3 linked regions of the Homo sapiens genome follow. The protein of the gene in region 1 purifies or fractionates together with the protein of each later gene. This does not show direct contact. Each region holds a gene or a part of one and is shown on either strand. Other genes may lie near its edges.

Evidence for each region. Proteins that work in one complex are often made in the same cells at the same time.
Region 2: the proteins of PPP6R2 (region 1) and ANKRD52 purify together in Homo sapiens (affinity purification with mass spectrometry; 4 studies listed by BioGRID and IntAct, with this or other methods). This does not show direct contact.
Region 3: the proteins of PPP6R2 (region 1) and MYO5C purify together in Homo sapiens (affinity purification with mass spectrometry; 2 studies listed by BioGRID and IntAct, with this or other methods). This does not show direct contact.

Annotation. Positions count from the first base shown.
Region 1 is NC_000022.11:50,437,326-50,444,342, forward strand, and holds part of PPP6R2 (serine/threonine-protein phosphatase 6 regulatory subunit 2), read left to right. Parts: intron 1-180; coding exon 181-278; intron 279-517; coding exon 518-575; intron 576-848; coding exon 849-973; intron 974-1,273; coding exon 1,274-1,437; intron 1,438-2,372; coding exon of another isoform or gene 2,373-2,375; coding exon 2,376-2,532; intron 2,533-2,635; coding exon 2,636-2,724; intron 2,725-3,475; coding exon of another isoform or gene 3,476-3,496; coding exon 3,497-3,701; intron 3,702-6,540; coding exon 6,541-6,792; coding exon of another isoform or gene 6,793-6,796; exon of another isoform or gene 6,797-6,800; intron 6,801-6,873; coding exon 6,874-6,922; 3' UTR 6,923-7,017. UniProt on the Homo sapiens protein: Regulatory subunit of protein phosphatase 6 (PP6). May function as a scaffolding PP6 subunit. Involved in the PP6-mediated dephosphorylation of NFKBIE opposing its degradation in response to TNF-alpha.
Region 2 is NC_000012.12:56,255,368-56,263,345, reverse strand, and holds the start of ANKRD52 (serine/threonine-protein phosphatase 6 regulatory ankyrin repeat subunit C), read left to right. Parts: upstream 1-4,961; 5' UTR 4,962-5,076; coding exon 5,077-5,103; intron 5,104-5,434; coding exon 5,435-5,518; exon of another isoform or gene 5,519-5,876; coding exon of another isoform or gene 5,877-5,984; coding exon 5,985-6,063; intron 6,064-6,260; coding exon 6,261-6,331; intron 6,332-7,361; coding exon 7,362-7,562; intron 7,563-7,978. UniProt on the Homo sapiens protein: Putative regulatory subunit of protein phosphatase 6 (PP6) that may be involved in the recognition of phosphoprotein substrates.
Region 3 is NC_000015.10:52,292,788-52,299,629, reverse strand, and holds the start of MYO5C (unconventional myosin-Vc), read left to right. Parts: upstream 1-3,825; 5' UTR 3,826-3,993; coding exon 3,994-4,020; intron 4,021-4,418; exon of another isoform or gene 4,419-4,746; intron 4,747-6,842. UniProt on the Homo sapiens protein: May be involved in transferrin trafficking. Likely to power actin-based membrane trafficking in many physiologically crucial tissues.

The DNA of each region.
Region 1 (7,017 bases):
GCGCGCAGCCTGAGTTTTGGTAGAATCGTGAGCCCTGAACAGAGTTTACTGCCCACTTGTGCTGGAGGAGAAGCTCCCGAACAACTAGAGAGATTGTGGTTCCCAAAGAGCAGCCTCCAGGCCTGATGCCTCCTCCATGACCGGTGTCTGTCCGTCCCTCCCTCCCTCCCTCCCTCCCAGGCCTTCTCTGACTACCAGATCCAGCAGATGACAGCCAACTTCGTGGATCAGTTTGGCTTCAATGATGAGGAGTTTGCCGACCAGGACGACAACATCAAGTGAGTCTACTTGGAGCGCACTCTGCACGAGGCGCGGCTCTCCCTGCTGCTGAGCTCCCGTGGAGGCAGCTCCCTGAGGTCTTGCCGGGAGTGCCGTCTGATGTCCCCGGGAGACAGCAGGTGTTCCCAGTTGTGTGAGGGTGCTGAGGCCCCCGATGAGCACCGGGGGAGGAGCACTGAGGCCCCAGATGAGCAGTGGGCCTGGAGGAACGCTGAAGCCATCCCCCTTGCTCTTGCAGTGCCCCGTTTGACAGGATCGCAGAGATCAACTTCAACATCGACGCTGACGAGGACAGTGTGAGCAAGCCGGGCTGTGTGGGGTGCCGCCACCCTTTTCCCAGGCAGCTCAGGCCATGCCCATGGCTCGGTCTGTCATGGGCCTGTGCGGTGGGGCTGGGAGAGGCCCCTCTGTGGAGCTCGGAACAGTCGCTTTCCTTGCCCCTCCCCGTCCTCCCCTCCAGCCCGGGGCTCCCACATCCCGAACTAAGCCCCTCTGGGAGCTCTATGGGGAGAGCGGCTCCTGTCTCCCCCAGACCCTCTGGAAACTCACCTTGGCGTTTTACTCTGCAGCCCAGCGCAGCTCTGTTTGAGGCCTGCTGCAGTGACCGCATCCAGCCCTTTGATGATGATGAGGACGAGGACATCTGGGAGGACAGTGACACTCGCTGTGCTGCCCGGGTGATGGCCAGACCCAGGTGCGGGGCCTGCCCATCCCCACAAAGCCTCTGCCGAGGAGGTTCAGCCCCCAGAACACCTGTCAGACGCCCTGTGGTTCGTTAGCTGGCTTGCAGAGCAGCCACACCTGTCCTGCCAGCTCTGGGGCCCAATGCAGCGGGTGACCCTAAGGAGCCCAGAGCTGAGGCCTGGAGCGTCTCGTGCTCCTCTCTCGAGACGATCTGTGCTCACCCTCAGCCCCGAGCCTGGGGCCGCCACTGACCCTCCATGTTAGGCGTCCGTCCTGGGCCACCAGACATCTGACTCTGAATCTCCCCCAGGTTTGGAGCCCCCCATGCTTCAGAGAGTTGCTCAAAGAATGGCCCAGAGCGTGGAGGCCAGGATGGGAAGGCGAGCTTGGAAGCACACAGAGATGCACCTGGGGCAGGTGCCCCACCGGCCCCCGGGAAGAAGGAAGCGCCCCCTGTGGAGGGTGACTCAGAAGGTGGTGCTGGGCGCCAGGGGCTGGGAGTGTGGGTATCGGGGACAGGACATGGTACCCCGGCCTGGGTGTTGTGGAGGCTTCATTTGGAGCTGAGGCATTTGGGGCTCACTGTGGCCCGGAGCCTGAATCCCCAGCTATTTCCCAGCCGTCCTGAGTAGGGGTCTGTGCTGCGCTGTGCCCAGCGCAAGGTGGCCTCCTGCCCCTGCCTTGCAGTTGTGGTCACTCAGCCACGTTGCCAAGGCTGGTGGGTGGTGTCCACCTAGTCTCCATCGTCCGTCCAGCCCCCACACAGTCAGGCACAGGCCTGACGCCCTCCCCAGCACAGCAGCACAGGCCGGCCGCCACCTTCATGGCCGACATCTATGGCAGGAGCCAGTCCACCTCACAGGCCGCATGGCTGATGAGACCCCTCTCCTTACCCTGCCCTGGGGGCAGCACTGAGGCACTCAGGACTTTGGTGGCGGGGGCAGAGATCTCTGTTAGGAGGGGCTGAGCTCTTCGCTGACAGAGCAAGGGTGACACCCTGGGGAAGCAGGAACATCCCAGATAGGAGGAAGACACCCCATCCTCGAGGCCAGGAAGGGGCCAGTGGTGCTCGGTGAGCTGCCGGCTCTGTGGGTTGCGGTCCTGGGTAGGACAGGGCAGTGGCATCACCTCCACACTGTCAGTGTCAGTCCTGCTGGAGGCCTGGGGGCCCTCAGGCACCTGACTGAGCCCCAGGTCACACGCCCCATGGGTGTCGGCAGCTTGTCAGGACCCTCGAGCTGTCCCCTGTTGCTCCTTGAGGGGCTGACGGGCACTGCCTGGGCCTCCCTCCTGGAGCAGCCCCATCTTCCTGTCAACCTCTGAGGGGCTCCCGGGGCAGGGGCGCTGCCTCCCCTTTGCCTGCAGCACCCCAGGCCTGCCCACGCCTGACCACTGTGTCTCTCCCCCAGCAGGCGCCATGTGGACGGCAGTGTTTGATGAGCCAGCGAACTCAACGCCCACAGCCCCAGGAGTGGTGAGGGACGTGGGTTCCAGTGTGTGGGCAGCTGGCACCTCAGCTCCAGAGGAGAAAGGCTGGGCCAAGTTCACTGACTTCCAACCTTTCTGCTGGTAACAAATGCGCTGGCAGGAGGGGGCTGTGCCAGGAAGTGCCTGTCAGGGCCAGGAGGCACCTGTCCCCCAGGACTGATCCTGTCCTCGTCCTTGTATGCAGCTCCGAGTCAGGGCCCAGGTGCAGCTCTCCGGTGGACACAGAATGCAGCCATGCTGAGGGCAGCCGGAGCCAAGGCCCTGAGAAAGCCTGTGAGTAGGAGCAGTGCAGGCGGCACCCAGCCTTGCCCAGTTTAAGGCCTGAGGCCAGCTGGCCCCCCTCCTTGGGGGCAGTGGGAGGAGGTGGCCGGGGCCTCGCATGCTGCTACGTCTCTGGTGACATTGGGGTTTGATACAGCAATGGGACTGGAGCAGCCACGTGTAGATGGGGAGGCCCCCAGAGGGGAGGCAGCAAGGCCATTGGGCTGGCTCTGAGCCTGGTCTGAGTAGGTGGCACAGCTCAGGTCTGCACCCTGGATTCCGGACAGCAGCACTGGGACCCCAGCATTGAGATGTGTGTGGGTGGGTTGTTGGCAGGAAGCTGTTCTGTGGCCTGATCAGAGCCCCTGGCCCCCAGCCCCCTAGTCAGGCTCAGAAGCTCCCCCAGATAAGGCTGAGAGCTCCAGGTGAGTGACAGCTGGCTCCCAACACTGGTGTCCCCGGTTTTGGGGTCCTTTGGGCTTAAAGGAGCTGTGGCAGGACCACACGAGGCGGAGTGGGCCCCTCCCTGAGCCTCTGCGTCCTCCTGTGAGACCAGGGCATGTGTCCCTGTATCATGGGGGAGGCAACAGGGTTGTTTGTGTGGAGACCCCATGGCAGGTGCGTGAGCCTGTCTGCCTCATCATGCGGCTCCCACACAGGCACATGTGTGCAGGCAACAGGCTGCATGTGAGAGGGCCACATGTATGGGGACCCTATGGCTGGAGTGGCCGCACCCTGTGACCCCTCCTGCCTCACTGGACAGCACAGGCCTCCTACTTTGCAGTCAGCCCGGCTTCTCCATGTGCCTGGAACGTGTGTGTCACCAGGAAGGCCCCCCTGCTGGCCTCTGACAGTAGCTCCTCTGGGGGCTCCCACAGCGAGGATGGCGACCAGAAGGCAGCGAGTGCCATGGATGCGGTGAGCAGGGGTCCCGGCCGGGAGGCCCCCCCGCTGCCCACAGTGGCCAGGACAGAGGAGGCTGTCGGCAGGTGTGTGGGGCGTGGCGGGGGCGGGCCTGCCGGGTGCATAGGGCGTGGCTTCCAGGCTCTGTCCCCAGGTCTCAGCTCCCCTGAGAGGAGGTGAGGCCAGGCCAGGGTCTTCTCCACACTGCCTCCCCCATGGCCCCGTGACCCTTCAGAGGCTGGCTGAGGCGGCGGTGGTGCCCACGCGTTTACGTGGAGGCCAGATGGGAGAAGTGTGGGGCCTTCTTTCGTGGACAGAACATCGTGTTCTCTGTTGTGAGTGGTTAAGACAAGAAGACAGGGCCTGGATGTCCCAGACAGTCCCCCAGGGACTTGGGGGAGCAGCCCCTACCCCAGATCCCAGTTGGAGAGAACAGCCCAGCTCTTGGGGCTCTGGGCCTGGCTGAGCCGCCTGGGATCTGGGTACCCTGGTGGTCGGGGAGGGGCACAGACTTTTAAGTCTGGCAGGCGAGCGGGCATCTGTGGGGCTCACGCAGACCTCGCCTGCTGCTCCCCTTCCACGGGAGGCCTATGATTCCGAGACGCCTCAGAAGCAGGATAGTAGGATGGGGGGCGGCGGCCTCAGGACTGCACTGGGGGCATCCAAATCCTGACTGAGAGTTGGAGGCAGCTTGCAGGCTGGCAGAGGCCCAGGCTCCCTTGAGCCCCCAAGAGCCATCCCTGGGGAGAGAGTGGAGAGGGAGGCTCTCCCTGTGAGGAGGTTGGAGGCTGGCCGGCCCCTCCAGCAAGCTGAACCCCATCCGTCCCCAGGGCCACAGGAAGGTCCCTGGGATCCTTCAGTAAACAGATACCTCTCTGGCCTCTGGGGTCAGGGCGTGGGTTAGCAGGAGGGCAGGACCGCTGGGGTAGATGCCAGGGCCAGGTAAACCTGAGGGGGAGGGTAGGACTGGGCTTGACGTGGGGAGGAGGGCGCACCCAGCAACGGCACAGCTGTGCAAAGACCCTGAGGCCTGAGCTCCCAGTAGGTCCAGGCAACAGTGGGGAAGTCCTCGGGCTGGATTCCTCTAGGAGGGGACAAGGTGCCTTTCACATCTGGTGGTGCATCCCAGTCACTCCTGGCTCCATGGTTGTGAAGGGCCTGCCTGGAGCGGGGTGAGGGTGTCCCCCAGCCTCACCGCCCAATGCAGCTCAGCCTGCATGCGTCCCACCTGTACTACCCTTCCCCCACAGGTGGGGCAGGCCTGACACCTCAGAGGGTCCTGCTCACTGACCCCCGGCAATCCTGGAGAGTCTGTGTGGTACTGGGGCTCCGGGCATCTCCCCCAGCCAAGCTGCAAGCTCAGCACCAGGCTGGCTCTCCCCGCCCTGTTGACCAGCAGGCCCCGTCTGTGCTCACAGCTCCTCCCCTTGTTTGGCCACCCTGTCTTCAGGGCATCTGCAGCAAGTGGGGGGCACAGCACGGGAAACGGGGCCAAGGCCGTTTCCCGATGCCGGCAGTCACTGGGAAGCCCAGGCCAGAGCCCCTCGGGTTGAAAGTCATACAGAGTTCCTGTGTGGGCTTCATTCCTTCTTAAAGTTTAGTCACTGAAATTTTTGTTTGTTTGTTTGAGACAGAGTCTTGCTCTGTTGCCCAGGCTGGAGTGCAGTGGCGCAATCTTGGCTCCCTGCAACCTCCGCCTCCCGGGTTCACGCCATTCTCCTGCCTCAGTCTCCCAAGTAGCTGGGACTACAGGCATCCGCCACCACCAGGCCCGGCTAATTTTTTGTATTTTTAGTAGAGACGGGGTTTCACTGTGTTAGCCAGTATGGTCTCGATCTCCTGACCTCATGATCCGCCTGCCTCGGCCTCCCAAAGTGCTGGGATTACAGGTGTGAGCCACCGCGCCTGGCCTAGTCACTGAAATTCTTAACAGTCTTTACCCTGCCAGGCACAGTGGCTCACGCCTGTAATCCCAGCACTTTGGGAGGCCGAGGTGGGTGGATCACCTGAGGTCGGGAGTTCGAGACCAGCCTGGCCAACATGGCGAAAACCCGTCTCTACTAAAAATACAAAAATTAGCCAGGCGTGGTGGCAGGCGCCTGTAGTCCCAGCTACTTGGGAGGCTGAGGCAGGAGAATCGCTTGAACCAGTGAGCCGAGATCACGCCACTGCACTCCGGCCTGCGCATGAGAGAGACTGACTGTCGGCAAAAACAAAACCAAAACAAACCTTTACCCACTTCTCCTAAACAACCCCTAAAAAACTGCTCTGAAAAGCAGGGAATATCATTGTGCAAAGTAAGTTGTTTTTTTCCACGGGGCTGTCTGCGTAAAACTTGCCACTTAGAGCCCTGCCTGCACCGTCGTCACGGCCCAGCCTGCAGGTGAGCTTCCTCGCGCCCCCGCCTGACCTGAGTGCCCCTCCCTCAGTCAGACACAGTGTCGTCGCCCTGCAGGAAGCCAGGGGGCCCGTCTGCTGCTCGTGGCCAGGCTGGGCCTTGGGGTGCCCGACCCCCTCCAGAGCAAGCCCCTTAGATGCCCGGCAGGGTCCTCTCTACCCTCCCATCCCCTGGGAGGTTTCCCCAGACTGTGTCCAGTGTGAGGCTGAAGTTGAGATCATAGCACAGGAGGCTCTGGGGTCCTTGAAGAATGAGGCGCTTGATGATGAGCAGGATCTGAGTGCTGCCTGGAGGAGGTTTGAGGTCATCAATGGACAGGCAGCTTGTCCCAGTACTTGGAACTTGGGGCAGCAGAGCTGCCTAGCTGGGCACAACCTGGGCCACCCCACAAAGGGCAGGAGTGAGAGGGGCCAAAGATGGTGCTCCCAGGCCGCCTGGACCTTTTTGTCCAGCTGGTCCTTGGGCATGAGGCGGGGTGGCACTGAGGGTGGGGGTGCCCGTAACCGGAGTCCATGTTTGCCACACAGGGTCGGGTGTGCTGACAGCCGGCTGTTAAGCCCTGCCTGCCCCGCGCCAAAGGAAGTGACTGCTGCCCCAGCCGTGGCTGTGCCCCCCGAGGCTACTGTGGCCATCACCACAGCACTGAGCAAGGCTGGCCCCGCCATACCCACCCCAGCAGTCTCTTCTGCACTGGCCGTGGCGGTCCCCCTAGGGCCCATCATGGCAGTCACAGCAGCCCCAGCCATGGTGGCCACCCTGGGGACAGTGACAAAGGACGGGTGAGCAGGTTGAGTGTGGGGGTAGGGGGTGTGGACAGGGCCCGCAGCCCGCACGGTTCCAACCCCACCCCATTCCTGCAGGAAGACAGATGCCCCGCCAGAAGGAGCTGCCTTAAATGGCCCAGTGTGATGCTGCTGCCGCCCGGCCACGGCCCACCCTGGTCAGGCTGCCTCCTTAATCGAGAAAACTACCTGGTGATGCAATCTTTTTTTTTTTTAATTTAA
Region 2 (7,978 bases), on another chromosome or scaffold:
GCACCTGTAATCCCAGCACTTTGGGAGGCCAAGCAGGTGGATCACCTGAGGTTGGGAGTTCAAGACCAGCCTGACCAACAAGGAGAGACCTCATCTCTACTAAAAATACAAAATTAGCCGGGCGTGGTGGTGCATGCCTGTAATCCCAGCTACTCGGGAGGCTGAGGTAGGAGAATCACTTGAACCCCAGAGGTAGAGGTTGCGGTGAGCCTAGATGGCGCCATTGCACTCCAGCCTGGGCAACAAGAGCAAAACTCCGTCTCAAAAAAAAAGTTTGAGCCCATCTTCTCTGGATTTCAAGTAAGCAAGAGCCATTGGGTGATCATCAAAACCCATTTTTAATAAGCTGTTCTACCTCTATAGCAGTTAGTACTACCAATTCAAAATAATTATTGACCAAATGAATATGTTTTATTATTTATCTATTTAATTTTTGAGACGGGGGTCTCACTCTGTCACCCAGATTGGAGTGCATTGGTGTAATCTCGGCTCACTGCAACCTCTGCCTTCCAGGTTCAAGTGATATTCCCACCTCAGCCTCCCAAATAGCTGCGACCACAGGGGCACACTACCACATTTTTGGTAGAGACAGGGTTTCATCTTCTTGCCCAGGTTGGTCTCAAACTCCTGAACTCAAGCAATATGTCCACGTTGGCCTTCCAAAGTGCTGGGATTACAGGCATGAGCCACCATGCCTGGACTATAAATGTGTTTTGTCAACTTTTCTTTTTTTTTTTAATTTTTTTTTTTTTTAATTTTGAGACAGAGTTTCACTCTTGTTGCCCATGCCGGAGTGCAATGGCGCGATCTCGGCTCACTGCAACCTCAGCCTCCTAGGTTCAAGCGATTCTCCTACCTCAGCCTCCCAAGTAGTTGGGATTACAGGCATGCACCACCACACCCGGCTAATTTTGTATTTTTAGTAGAGACGGGGTTTCTCCATGTTGATCAGGCTGGTCTTGAACTCCCAACCTCAGGTGATCCACCTGCTTGGCCTCCCAAAGTGCTGGGATTACAGGCATGAGCCACCGTGCCCGGCCGCCACCTTTCCGTTTATCCTCTTCCGTGATACCCCAAGTTGGGTGATGATCTCACTTATTTTCTTTCCTAACATCTCTTCTTTTCGCCTCTGCACTCCAGAGAGAGTCTGTTAAAATGTCCACATCCCCCAGTCCTCCTTTCCACTACTGTAGTACAGTGCCTCCTTCCAGTTCACAAATGGTAATCTGGAGCCACCTTCAGATGGGCACATGACCTTAAAGGACAGATTTACTCTTTCGAATTCCACTGTCTTGTCCAGCCCCACCCGCCTCTGACTAAGGGCTTATACATGTGAGACAGCTGCTTTGAATGAGGAGTAAGGATCTGGTTGGTTAAAAGACAGAAATTAACAGGGATACATAACTGAACTGTGACCTCATTATCACTCTGCCTTAACCAAGTTGACTGCTACAGAATCCCCAAGGTCCAACAGGCCTACCAAGCCAATTTGCTTACTGTCCCCTACTAATTGGTTTAACTAATTACTGCCATTTAAACTTTCCTAGTTTAGTCCCTATACTTGAAACAACCGATTTCTTCCCATGTCTCCACCATTCTACATCAATAACTTCCTTCAAGTACTGACTCAAAACACACCTCCTCCAGGAAGACCCTCTTGACTGAACCCTTCCTTCAACATTACTCTGAACACATAATGCCATGTAATCTAGCATGTATCCTATATTCTGTAGTTGTTTCACATGTATATGTATGTTCATCTACTAAGTTATAAGCTCCTCATAAAGAGACACCATTACTTCTAATTTTTGACCTCCCGACCAATTAGTACAGGGCTGTACATCGGGTGAGTCCTCACATTTAGTCAGAAGAAGGAAAACTGAGGCTTAAAAATAGGCAGCCATCTGTCTAGAGTTACCCAAATATGAATGCTTGTAGTTCAATCCAGAAGGACTGTCCATATAAGAAGGTTTTATCACCACTTCTGGCCTCCTCCTCCCATACCCTGTGTGTCTCCCTGAGCCCTGAAAGTATCAGTGTTCCCTACATCAAATCCCTTTTTTTCCTACTGGGAAATCCTCTTTTGATGCTCTAAATAATATTAAAAATAACTCTTCTAGCCCGTCCTCCTCCCTCCAATTGCCCAGAGAACCAGGCTGGCAACCTCTCTTGTTCACCTCCATCCCCTAGCCAGAACCGGGCACGTGACCCCAGCTGAACCCCTGACTCCAATTCCTCAGGTTACCTAGAGTTATTTTGGGCAATGGATACCATGTATGCCCCTCCTCCTTATCCTCTGGGCCATATCCTAGTTTAGCCCTTCCTGGAAGGCCCATCATACCCAATAGCCAAGTCCCAACACCCATATCCATTTGATCCTTTGCTACCTTTGGTTTCTGCTGCTGCTTCATCATCATCATCAGTCATCAAATATTAAATGCCTGTTTCTCTATACTGATATTCTGGAGCTTAAAAAAAACTATACCTGGCTGGGCACGGTGGCTCACGCCTGTAATCCCAGCACTTTGGGAGGCCGAGGCGGGCGGATCACGAGGTCAGGAGATTGAAACCTCCTGGCTAACATGGTGAAACCCCATCTCTACTCAAAGTTAGCCGGGCATGGTGGCAGCACCTGTAGTCCCAGCTACTGGGGAGGCTGAGGCAGGAGAATGGCATGAACCCCAGAGGCGGAGCTTGCAGTGAGCCGAGATCCCGCCACAGCACTCCAGCCTGGGCGGCGACAGAGCGACACTGGTCTCCAAAAAAAAAGGTGAAATGAGAAACAAAGGTGTACAATTTAACCAGATTGTGGCAGTATAAACTAAGTATGTAAGTGTTAAGGAGAACTAACAAAAGGAAAAGAGCCTATTAGCCAGAGGAGACTTCCTGGAAGAGGTAAGTTTAAATTTCTTCATAATTTTTGTGTGTGCATGGAATCACGGAGTGATTGCTCCTAAGCAATATTTTAACTTTTATTTTCAATATGGTAAAAATTTAAAAAATTCCAAAAGGTATATAGTGATAGGTAAATTTCTCTCTCATTCCTTATTTCCTGTACCCCAGTTTTTCTTTCTGGGAAAAAAGGACTGTTACTAGTGTCTTAAGTATCTTTCTAGCAGGAAAGCAAGGGAAGGCTTTTTTTTTTTTTTTTTTTTTTTGACATGGAGTCTGGCTCTGTCACCCAGGCTGGAGAGCAGTGGCTCCATCTCGGCTCACTGCAACCTCCGCCTCCTTGGTTCAAGTGATTCTCCTGCCTCAGCCTCTCCAGTAGCTGGGATTACAGGCGTGCACCACCACACCAGGCTACTTTTTTATATTTTTGGTAGAGATGGGGTTTCACCATGTTGGGAATGGGAAGGCTTTTTTTTTTTTTTTTTTTTTTTTTTTTTGAGACGGAGTCTCGCTCTGTCGCCCAGGCTGGAGTGCAGTGGCGCAATCTCGGCTCACTGCAAGCTCCACCTCCCGGGTTCACGCCATTCTCCTGCCTCAGCCTCCCAAGCAGCTGGGACTACAGGCGCCCGCCACCCTGCCCGGCTGATTTTTGTATTTTAGTAGAGACGGGGTTTCGCTGTGTTAGCCAGGATGGTCTCGATCTCCTGACCTCGTGATCCACCCGCCTCGGACTCCCAAAGTGCTGGGATTACAGGCGTGAGCCACCGCGCCCGGCCGGGAAGGCTTTTTTGAAATGTATTTTCGCCGGGTGCGGTGGCTCACGCCGGTAATCCCAGCTCTTTGGGATGCCGTGGCAGGTGGATCACCTGAGGTCAGGAGTTCGAGACCAGCCTGACCAACATGGTGAAACCCCCGTCTCTACTAAAATAAAAAATTAGCCGGGCAGGGTGGCGGGCGCCTGTAGTCTCAGCTACTTGGTAGTCTGAGACAGGATAATCACTGAACCCGGGAGGCGGAGGTTGCAGTGAGCCGAGATCGTGCCACTGCACTCCAGCCTGGGGGACGAGAGTGAAACTCCATCTCAAAAAATAAAATAAAATGTATTTTTATTTTTTAATTTTTTTCCTCTCCCCTCAAGGGAGGATTTTTATATATAAAGCCTTGACAGGACGCCAGCATGCTGCACTTCGTCCATTTCGTGTTCTCTTCAATGTGTATTGAGTTGTGAAACTCTGAACAGGACCCTGGATCACCTTTTATAAATTGTATCAATTTTTCAATCTCCACTTTTCGTCTTCCTCCTTTTTCCGTTTCTGGGTTGAGATGACCTCCATTCATTTCTTCTCTAATTGACGGCTCTCTGGCCTCTCCATTGGAGGAGGGGAAGCGCCACAGGCTGTTCTGGGGAGAAATTGTTGAGTGTTTTCCACTTTAACCTTGCAATGGAATCAGTAAGGAGTTGGAAAATGCCCCTTCTGTTGGTCTTGGCGGCCTTTTCCAGCTGCCAGTTGTCATGGCCTCTTTGTGGGTGTTTTCTGCAGTAGAATCCTCCTTGGGGTTTCTCTGCAGTTTGAGCACTTTTGCTATTTCTTCTCTACCGAACTCACGCCTCCGCCAGTGGAGATACACGCTTTCCCTCCCTCTGGGGCTATTGCCATACATAATTCCCAGTTCTCCACCCGCCAGTTCCTCCTAGTCTGTGGGGGATTTCGGGGTGTGGAATCGCTGACGGGAGGAGTTAGCTCGGGCGGGAGCATTGTGGGCTGGGTAAGATCTGGCCAGCCGTTCGGTCCTCAGTTTGGGAAGCACCGCGGGACTAAGGCCCAGGTTTCCGCTAGGGTCTTGTGGGGAACCCCTTGGGCCGCCAGACTGGAGCGGAGAGCACAGCGCGGCCAGCTGCGTGAGCCGGGGAGCCGGCGCGCGAGTTCGGGGGTGCAGGGGCTGCTGGGGCCGCCAGGGTGGGGCGGAGGGCGCTGCGGCCGGGGTCCGTTTGCGCGGGGAGCGCCGGGACCAGGACGGCCGCCAGGGAGCGCTGCGGCCTCCAACTCGCCCGCCCCCCGGTAGGCGGGGCCGCGCTCTCCCTGCAGCCGCCACCGCAGCCGCCGCCTGGGCCGCTCCGTGTCCCCGGTGGAGCCGCCGCCGCCGCCGCCGGGAGCTCGATGCGGACGGAGCCCGGGCCGAGCCATGGGGATCCTCAGCATCACGGACCAGGTCAGCCCTCCTGCCCTTTCCCGCTTCCTCCTTCCAGGGCTCGGCGCTGCCGTCACGCGAGCCCGGGGATGTGCGGCCTAGGCTGGGCCTGAGCCCGGGGCTCCCGCAGCTCCCGCCCCGCCCCATGCCGCGCTCCCCTCAACCGAGCCGGTGTCCTTGGGGACCTGGCAACCGGCGGAGGCACCGCGGGAGCTCGCTCCAGCCAGAATCCCTAGAGTGGAGCCCCTCCACGGACGCCCCCCACTCAAACCTAGGTGCTCCCCCACCCCCACCCCCACACCGGTTCCGCTCCGGCTCCAGCCCGCTCTCAGAATGCCGGTTCTCTCTGCAGCCGCCCCTGGTCCAGGCCATCTTTAGCCGAGATGTGGAGGAAGTGCGTTCCCTACTCTCGCAGAAGGAGAACATCAATGTGCTGGTGAGTTGGGAGCAGGGAGGATGGCGAGACCGGAATCCTGGCTCCCGTGTTCTGGACCCCTCCCCACCGGTGGGGCGGCTCCGTGTCTCCTCTGCTCAGATGAGGCCGCAGTTCTTTCCATCCTGGAGTGAAAGCCTACTCTGCATTTGGGGATGGAGAGCAGGTCAGGCTTGAAGCCCAGATCACTTGGGCTGGGAATGCCCAGGAACGTTGTTCTCTTCTCAACCTCCGGAGTCTGCAGCGCCCCCACCCCTCCTGGAAAAAGGAGCCGGCTTCTCAGCCCATTGGCCCTGACTCCACCCTCCCTAGGTGCTTGCCTTTGACTCCCAATACCGGGACTTAGGACGCTGCAGAAACTATGGGAAGAGGTTGTGGGGAAGGGCCTGGAGCTCTGAGACTTGGGCTGGGGTCCTTGATAGCCCCCTTACCCCGCGCCCATACTCCCTGCTCTTTTTTGCCTTCCCAGGACCAAGAGAGGCGAACTCCATTGCATGCTGCTGCCTACGTAGGCGATGTCCCCATCCTCCAGTTGCTACTGATGTCAGGTGAAAGTGGGGAGCTGGAAGGTGTGGCACATAGGGAGCGAAGGGAGGGGAGGAGTCTTTTTTGATATTCAAGGATTGCTCTCCCCGGCTTGGTCCAGGCGAGGCTCCAGCTCCATTCAGATTTCCTGGCCTGATTACTGGCTTCCTTCATACCTCCTCCCCACCTTCCATCAAAATAGGAAATTATATCCCCACAGGTGCTAATGTCAATGCTAAGGACACACTGTGGCTGACCCCTCTTCATCGTGCTGCTGCCTCCCGAAACGAGGTATGCACCCCCACCTTCTATTACCCTTTCAAAAAGGATAAGTTGCTTAAAGGTGGGGGTTAAGGGTTAAGGAGCCTCAGTCCTCAGCCCTACAAGCTGTTCTACCCCAGGTAGTGAGGAGATCAAATCTTGGCCCCTTCCTCCTACCCCTAGAACTGGCCAGTAAGGGGGTTGAGTGCTGCCAGCTGATGTGACTCAGGAAGAGCTTAACACTGGGCTGGCAGACTGCGGGGGCCCTGCTGCCAGGCCTGAGTGACTCATCCCTCCCTGGGGGGCCACCTTGAGTCTGATCCCCCTCTGGGCACTGAGATTTCTTTTCCTTGTGATGGAGGATGGGTATAGTAATCTGTTGCATCCTTGGCCCTCAAGCAGCTTGAAAGTTGACAGCACAGGGGCCAAACATATTTCATCAGTTGGGTCCTTTATCCTATTCCCATCAGCCCTGAAGACAGGGAAAGGGGGACCTCCTCCTCAGTTCATCACTTCCCTGGCTCCAGCCACCAGGGGGAGGGGCCGAGGCCAGTGGGAATGAGGTGGGTGGTGGTTAGGAGGGGCATTTTAGCTCGGGTTTTGCAAACGAACCAGTATCTGTTTGCTTACTGAGATACTGAAAATAATTTTGGTGCCTATGAGAAGGCTAAAGAGGGTGTTCAGGGCAAGATGTAGCAAGAGCATTTAGTTTTCCTAGAAGTAGTAGGGGGTTGGGATGTGTGGATCTCCACATGTGGATTTGTTTGGGAATGGATGTATGTGTGAGTGAAGATTTTCAGGGTCTAAGTTGGCGAGTCAGGTGGCTTGAAGAAGAGCAAAGGGTCCTTGTTTTAATCAGCAAGGTAAGGAAGAGCTTAAGTTCTAAGAAGATCCAGAAGATGGAAAGTAGGTATTCAGAGGCTAGGTATGTTGGAAAAATGAGAAGAGATTCTGTGCTGGGGAAGGGGCTGTAGATGCTATGCTGACCTATTCCTCCTTCCATTTCCTGTTGTTTTACCTCCTGCTCCCACTCTCTCTTTTGTCCCCTGCCCCTCAACAGAAGGTGCTGGGGCTGCTGCTGGCACATTCAGCAGATGTGAATGCCCGGGACAAGCTGTGGCAGACACCACTGCATGTGGCTGCTGCCAACCGGGCCACCAAGTGTGCTGAGGCTCTGGCACCCCTGTTGAGCAGCCTCAACGTGGCTGACAGGAGCGGGCGCAGTGCTCTGCACCATGCAGTGCATAGTGGGCATCTTGAGGTGAGGACTGTTCCCATCCAGGCCCAGCTGGGGCTTTCCCTTTTCTTACCTTCCTACTCACGTTTCCCTGCTTCTGGGCCCTCAAGCCTGAAGGAGAAGCAGCCCGGATGGTTATATAAACACTTAAGCTGAAGCACTAAATGAATGGTCAGACTAGATTAAAATTCTTAACTTGGACTTCAGGAGGTTGATAAAACCTTGGATTTTGCGTGGAAAATATTTGCATACACGCCTTTCTGAAGAGAGTCCATGTCTTTCAGCACATTTGCAAAGACTTACAAGAGTTTAAGAACCGGCCGGGCACGGCGGCTCACGCCTGTAATCCCAGCACTTTGGGAGGCGAAGGCGGGTGGATCATGAGATCAGGAGATCGAGATCATCCTGGCTAACATGGTGAAACCCTGTCTCTACTAAAA
Region 3 (6,842 bases), on another chromosome or scaffold:
AAAAAAAAAAGAAAAAGAAATAAATAAAATGGCCAGGTGTCAGGTGTGGTGGCTCACGCCTGTAATCCCAGCACTTTGGGAGGCCGAGGCGAGATCACGCCATTGCACTCCAGCCTGGGCAACAAGAGCTAAACTCTGTCTCAAAAAAAAAAAAAAAAAAAATTCCATATCCTAAATGTCAGAGTTCTAACTATAACACATCTAGAAGAGAATCTTTATGAGCTTAAGCTAGGCAAAAATTTATTAGATAACAACACCAAAAGCATGATCCACAAAATTAAAAAATGATAAATTGGACTTCCCCCAAATTTAAAGTTTTTGTGCTGCCTAAGACACCATGAAGAAAATGAAAAGACAATCCATATAGTGGGAGAAAATATTTGCAAACCATATATCGGTAAAGGGTTTGTGATCAAAATGTTTAAAGATGGTAGATTCAATACCTGTATTTACTCAACCTTCCTCCTGAAACTCCGGTAAGTAACAATAAACTCACAAAGGAAAACAGAATGAATGAGGAATGACAGCAACAGCTTGGAAGATGAAAAACAGATGGATAAATGTCTTTTATTTTCACAAGCAAAGAAAACTGAAACCTAACCCGGGACAGGCAGAAGCCCAGAAGCAATCCAGTTTGCACTACATAATTCCGAAAAGCTCAGGAATTAGGTTCAGAGGCAGCAGGTAACACTGAAAGTGGCATGCAGCTGAAAACACAGGAATTGGTTGAAAATCTGTTTAAATAGCAGTTCAAGTGGACTTGAACAGACATTTCACAAAAGAGAATACCAAAGTGGTCAATAGTCATCATAGAAATAAATGCAACTTGGACCCACAGTGAGACATCATAACACACTCATCAGAAAGGCTATTTTTTAAACTGACCACATCAAGTGGTGAGGATATTAAGCAACTAAAAGTCTCACACACTGCTGGTAGAAGTATACATTGATATAACAATTTTTTACAAATCTCTTTAGCATTATCCGTTAAAGTTGAGCATTACATACCTGTGATCCAGCAATTCTGCTCTGTTTATGTGCCCAACAAAAATACATATATTTGTGCATCAAAAGACACATATAAAATGTTCATAGCAGCATTATTCATAGTGGGTGTAAACTGAAGCAACCGAAATATTTATCAATAGGAGAATGAATAAATTGTAGAATATTTATACAATGGAATACTACTAGACAGGAATGAAAGACCTCAAACCGCAGCTACATGCAACAAGATGAATAAATACCATGTAAAAAGCCAAATGCAAGAGTTACACATGTGATTCCATTTATTAAAAACATCCAAAACAGGTAAAACGCATCTATGGTGATACAAATCAGAACAGTGGTTATCTTTGAGAGAAAATGATTTGAAGAAACAGAGAAAGTTTTGGGATATCGGTAATGTTCTACGTCTGGATCTGGGCGGTGGTTACTTTGGTGTGTTGATGTGTTCCATGAATAAGAATATATTGAGCTGTACACTTATTATTTGCACACTTTTCTGTATATAATTTTATTCTTCAATAAAAATTTTCTTTAAATAAAAAAGGCAGCTAGATTCTCTTTTTAACTCTGAGCAATCAGGCAGCTGTCACTACTCACCTTATAGATTTTCTTTTTCTTTATACAAAATAGAATTATTTGGGCAATAATATAAATAATTTTGTATATAAATAAATGCAAAATTAAATTTACCATGATCCTCTCTTTGTGGCATTTATCATTATTGATCCATGCCAGGCCTCTCTTTATATTTTTTGATCCCCTTTTTGAAATCTCCGATTCCATTTCTCTCCCTCATAGGTATCCACTCTTGCATATTTAATGAATGACTTTGTAATTTATCCTCCTTACCTCTATTCACACATACTTGTACCCATGAACAATATTCAGTATTGCAGTTTTTGTGAGTTTTTAAATATTAAAGACTTGGGCTAGACATCTATTCAACATTGTTTTTTATTTCTGAGTCAAGTAGATCATGTCTATTCCTACTAACAGCTGTAGAGTTTTACATGTATATACTATTTCTTTTTTTATTTTTCTCTGCTGTCTGCCATGTATATACTATTTTATTTATTCCCCTATTGATATTTAGATGCTTCCAACTCTTTGATAAATAACTATGTTGTGATGAACATCTACTTAACTGTCTCTTTGGGTGACTGTGAGAATTTTTCTGCCTACATTTATTTTCATAACTATTCTCAAATTGCTCTCCAGGATGGCAGTATATTCCCACCAGTTATGTAAGCAAAAAAAGTTTTTATTTTTTTTATTTATTTTTTTTTTTTTTTTGAGACGGAGTCTCGCTCTGTCGCCCAGGCTGGAGTGCAGTGGCGCAATCTCGGCTCACTGCAGGCTCCGCCCCCTGGGGTTCACGCCATTCTCCTGCCTCAGCCTCCCGAGTAGCTGGGACTACAGGCGCCCGCCACCTCGCCCGGCTAATTTTTTGTATTTTTAGTAGAGACGGGGTTTCACCGTGTTAGCCAGGATGGTCTCGATCTCCTGACCTCGTGATCCGCCCGCCTCGGCCTCCCAAAGTGCTGGGATTACAGGCGTGAGCCACCGCGCCCGGCCAAGTTTTTATTTTCTCACATCCTAGGCAGTATCTGAGATTGTCTAACCTAAATGTTTTTGCCAATATGATGGGTAAAAAGCAATATCTCATTGTTGTTTTCATTTGTATTTATCTGATTACTGCTAAAGTTGACATCTCCTTGTATGCTAACAAGCCATTTAAGTGTCCCCATCTGTGAATTGCCTATTAATTTTTGTCAGTTTTAAAAATTGGATTTCTTTTCTTTAACCGATTAACAATTCTTCTATATGGAAACTACTATAACCCAACATTTTAAAGATATTATCCCTCTTTTATTCCTAATAATTTCCCGGTTTTAAGTTTTAATCGTGAATCCATCTGGAGCTTATTTTTGGATGCAGTGTTTGCCACGGATCTGCTTTTATTGTTTTTCCATATAACGGGCCCATCTAATAAATATTATTTTATTTCCCTATCTGGTCCTTAAGGCTACCGTATAATGTAGGGCCCTGCTGGGGGGCTCCAGCATGTTCCATTACTCACGTATCCGTTCTCACGCAAGTGTCACACTGTTTTAATGACTACTGCTTTGTTATGTCCCTAAATATATGGCAGGACAAATCTCTCCTCTTTGAGAATTGTCTTAGTTATACAGGGCTTTTATTCTATATGAAATATAGAATCATTGTACAATTCTCCAAAAGTTCTGTAGGATTCTGACGCCAATATATTAGGCATATATATTGATTTGGGTAGAAGTGACACCTTGACCATATTAAATATTCCCAGCCAGGAAAATGGCATGTCTCCCGTTTACCTGGGCCTTCTTTTAAGCTCTTTAAGAGAATTTTAAACATTTTCTCCACAAAGGCCAAGGGCATTTTTGCGAGTGTAATCTCTGGATACTTTATATTTTCACTAATATTGTAAATATCTTGTATTGCATAGACAATGCTCATATAAAGGACCATTACTTATTTTTGTATTTGATTTTGAATACGATGACCTTGCTGGACTCTTAACACATTTCTTTGTGTTCAGTACGTTGATTCCCTTGGGTCTTCCATTTAAATGGTCGTATCCTCTGCTCTTTGAGGAGCTAACACTCGGGCCGGGCAGCCTCCGGATGCATCTGTTCCTGCCTGGCAGCGCGCCCCGGGCCCCAACCTTCTCCACCCGCGCTCCCGCCAGGTGCAGCCGCCCGGCCCCGGCCAATGGCAGCGCCGACTAGCCGGGCCAAGCTTGGAGGGACCAATCCCGCCGCTGCCCCCTCCCCTCGCCGCCAACTCGGGAACGGGAACAGGAGGCCGTTGGAAAACTTTGGGCAAGATGGCCCGGCGGTGATTTCCGCGGCGGTCTCTCCTGCGCCCGGCCTCTGCGGCGCAGGCCCAGCCCCCGAGCCTCGCACGTTCGGCAGCCCCGGCCTGGCCCCGGCCCCTCCTGCCCATGGCGGTGGCCGAGCTGTACACGCAGGTAGGAGGGTCCGCTGGGCTCCTGGGAGCGCTGTGGGGGAGCCGGCCCTGCTAACGCTGACTCGACCTGGCGCCCGGGCCACACCTGCCACACCTGCGCACCTGACACGGCAGGGCGGGCGGGCGCGCGCTGGGGGCCGCGGAGGCGCCGCGGAGGGGCCACGGGGACCGGGGACACGAGCGAGCGTCGCCCCTCCAGGGCCCCGGCGTGCTCCGTCCCTGCCCGCGGGTAAGCCCCCTCCTGGCTCCGCTGCGCCTGGGTGCCCTGTGGGTGGGAAGACCCTGTGGGAGGGGCCGCCCCCTCCGCCGCTCCGGCCTCGGGGCCTAGAATCCCCAGTGCCCAGGGGTCGCGCGTGCGTCCCCATCTCCCGGGACTGGAGCGCCTCGGTCCCTTCCTACCACACCACGGGTGGAATCAGAGTTGCCCATGCGGACGTAGGAAGCTGAGACGCCGGCCAGTCTCCTGGCCCCTCCTGGGACCCCCTTGAACGAGCTGGCATAGAAGCTTATGGCCGCAGTGTTCGGGCTGCTTTCTAGAATTCTGTGTCTTCAAAGTGCGTGAACGTGCATGTAGGCTCATCAGAAGCTGAAGCAGCCTGGGTCACAGGCTTGAGGGCACTGCAGTGGCACCAAGCGCTTGGGGAGCCCAGGGGCCACGAGGTGCAGTCGTAGGCTCTTTGCCTAACATCTGTACTGTTAGCAACAGTACAAACACCACAGTTTCTAAAGCGCCTTTCATATACCCTGACTCTGGGAAACACTAGAGCATTCCTCAGAAGCTTCCTTTCTGCTGGCTGGGGCTCCACCTCTTACCTCGGAAGGGCAGCGTTCCCACATATGTCCCAAACCCTCTGAGATGGGCTTGGGTAATTATTTGGATAAAGAGTGTGACAGTGTTAGCACTTTTGAAAAAAAAAATCCATTTGAATAGCCATAAAGCCTGATCCTCCTATACACCAGTTGGGGAAATCTAGAGACCTCAGTATTCAGACGAGTGGAACTAGAATCCATCCATTTCCCCGGACACATGCTCTAGCTTTCTACTTTAAAAGATGCTTTTGCTGTAGATAGAAAAGATAGTTATTTAAAAAATCATGTTTCAATGGTTTAAGCAAACGTTTTTCTTCTACTTTGATTACTTAGTAACAGTCCGGACACAAAGCAACCGAACTGTAGTTTCTCCTCTATTGCATCTCCATTAACTGGAGTTCTAAATGGACAGTGTTTGAATTGCCCTAGTTTTGTTCTAGAATATTTTCACCAGTGAGACTGTGAGCCCTCAGACAGCCAACAGCGCTTCTTCAGCCTTCAGTTTACTGGAAGTGAAAGAAAAGTCTTGGACTAGTCTTCGACGATACTTTGGAGGACAGAGAAAAATGCTGCTGCTGAACCTATTTGAGGTGACAGTATTTCCAGAAGCAGAAACACACAGGTGCAAGCACCCCTATTTTTAGGTGCCTCAAACCTCAGATATTTATTAAATGTCTAGTAAGTACCAGGCACAATGTAAGAAAACTGATAGGAAGGAGTTTAAAGGTACAAGCTTGGAGGGAATGAGAATCTGAGAATCCCAGAGACTGACGCAGCCTGATGGCCATTCCCACTGACCTTGTGTCCACGTAGACACCTGTGTTCCTAGGCTGCCACCTCCCTTCCTGGTGGGCAGTTAGCCCCCATTTTGTCTGTTCTGGAGGTGTGAAGGGGAGGGCCATGGCAGCCAGAGAGCGAGGTCAGGGCTTTATTCCCCAGTGTGGGTTTTGAGTGGGGGCTGGCAGAATCAAGGGTGGTGTGTTAGGACTGTTAGATTTGTTATGTATGCCAGCAGCGCCCTTGGGCTGTGGAGGAGAGAGGCCGGGGTCACGTAGCTGAATTCTCAGGTCATTCCAGCTGTTGGAAAAGAATTAGAGCTGCAGTGTTGGCCATGGAGGGTGGAGGCAGGTGAGGCTGAGAGGCTGGACTGGGGAGTGGGGTGGGGGTTGAAGGGACCAGCCAAGGATGACATTTGAGGTTAGAGTCTGTATGAGAGACAGCAGGGTGGTGCCCTTGAGTGAATTAAGGATGTGGCATGAGGAGGAAATATTTCTTAAGAAAGTCATCAGGCAAGTTCTGTATTTGCAGGGGTTGAAGGGGTGAGGGGGCTTCCAAGGGAAGGTGCCTTGCAGGGTGGGAGGTGTCAGAGGGAGGGGATGGGCCCTGCCGAGGGTCTTCTGCCCAGAGGTGGTCACTGAAGCCAACAAGACACTGAGGGTCTCACCAAGGTGGGAGAAGGCAGACAGAGAAGAGGGTGAGGGACAGGCCAGCGGGGAATGCATCTGTGCAAGGAGTGAGAGGAAGCAGAAGGGCTGAGATGGAGCCATCCAGAGGAGGAGCTAACAGGGGAGCTGGAAGCCACCCTGTGGGAACAGGGAAGAGGGAACTCCAGGAGAAGTCTTGGTGAGGGGAGCAATCGCTGCCAGGTGAGGTGTAAAATCATCCATCTCTTTTGAAAAGCTACAGGTGCCATGCCTTAGAAATGTTCAGAGCAGCAGTTCCCCTATTTGAAATCTCTCTTAAGAAGAGCCGGTCTGGCATTCTCTGCTCTACCACCTCTAGAGGCTCCCATTGCTTTCAGACTCACTGACCAGCCACGAGGTCCTGCCTCTCTCCCTGCCTTCCTGCTCTTACCTGGCTCATGCTCTGCCAGACTCCTTGCCATTCCCTCAATGCCTTGCTTGCACGTTGCCACTGCGTGCCTTGGCACACGAACTCCACCTGTCTGAGCCTCTGTCTGTCACCTTTGCTCATGGCACCTGCACCTTCCACCTTCAATTTGAGCAGGACCTC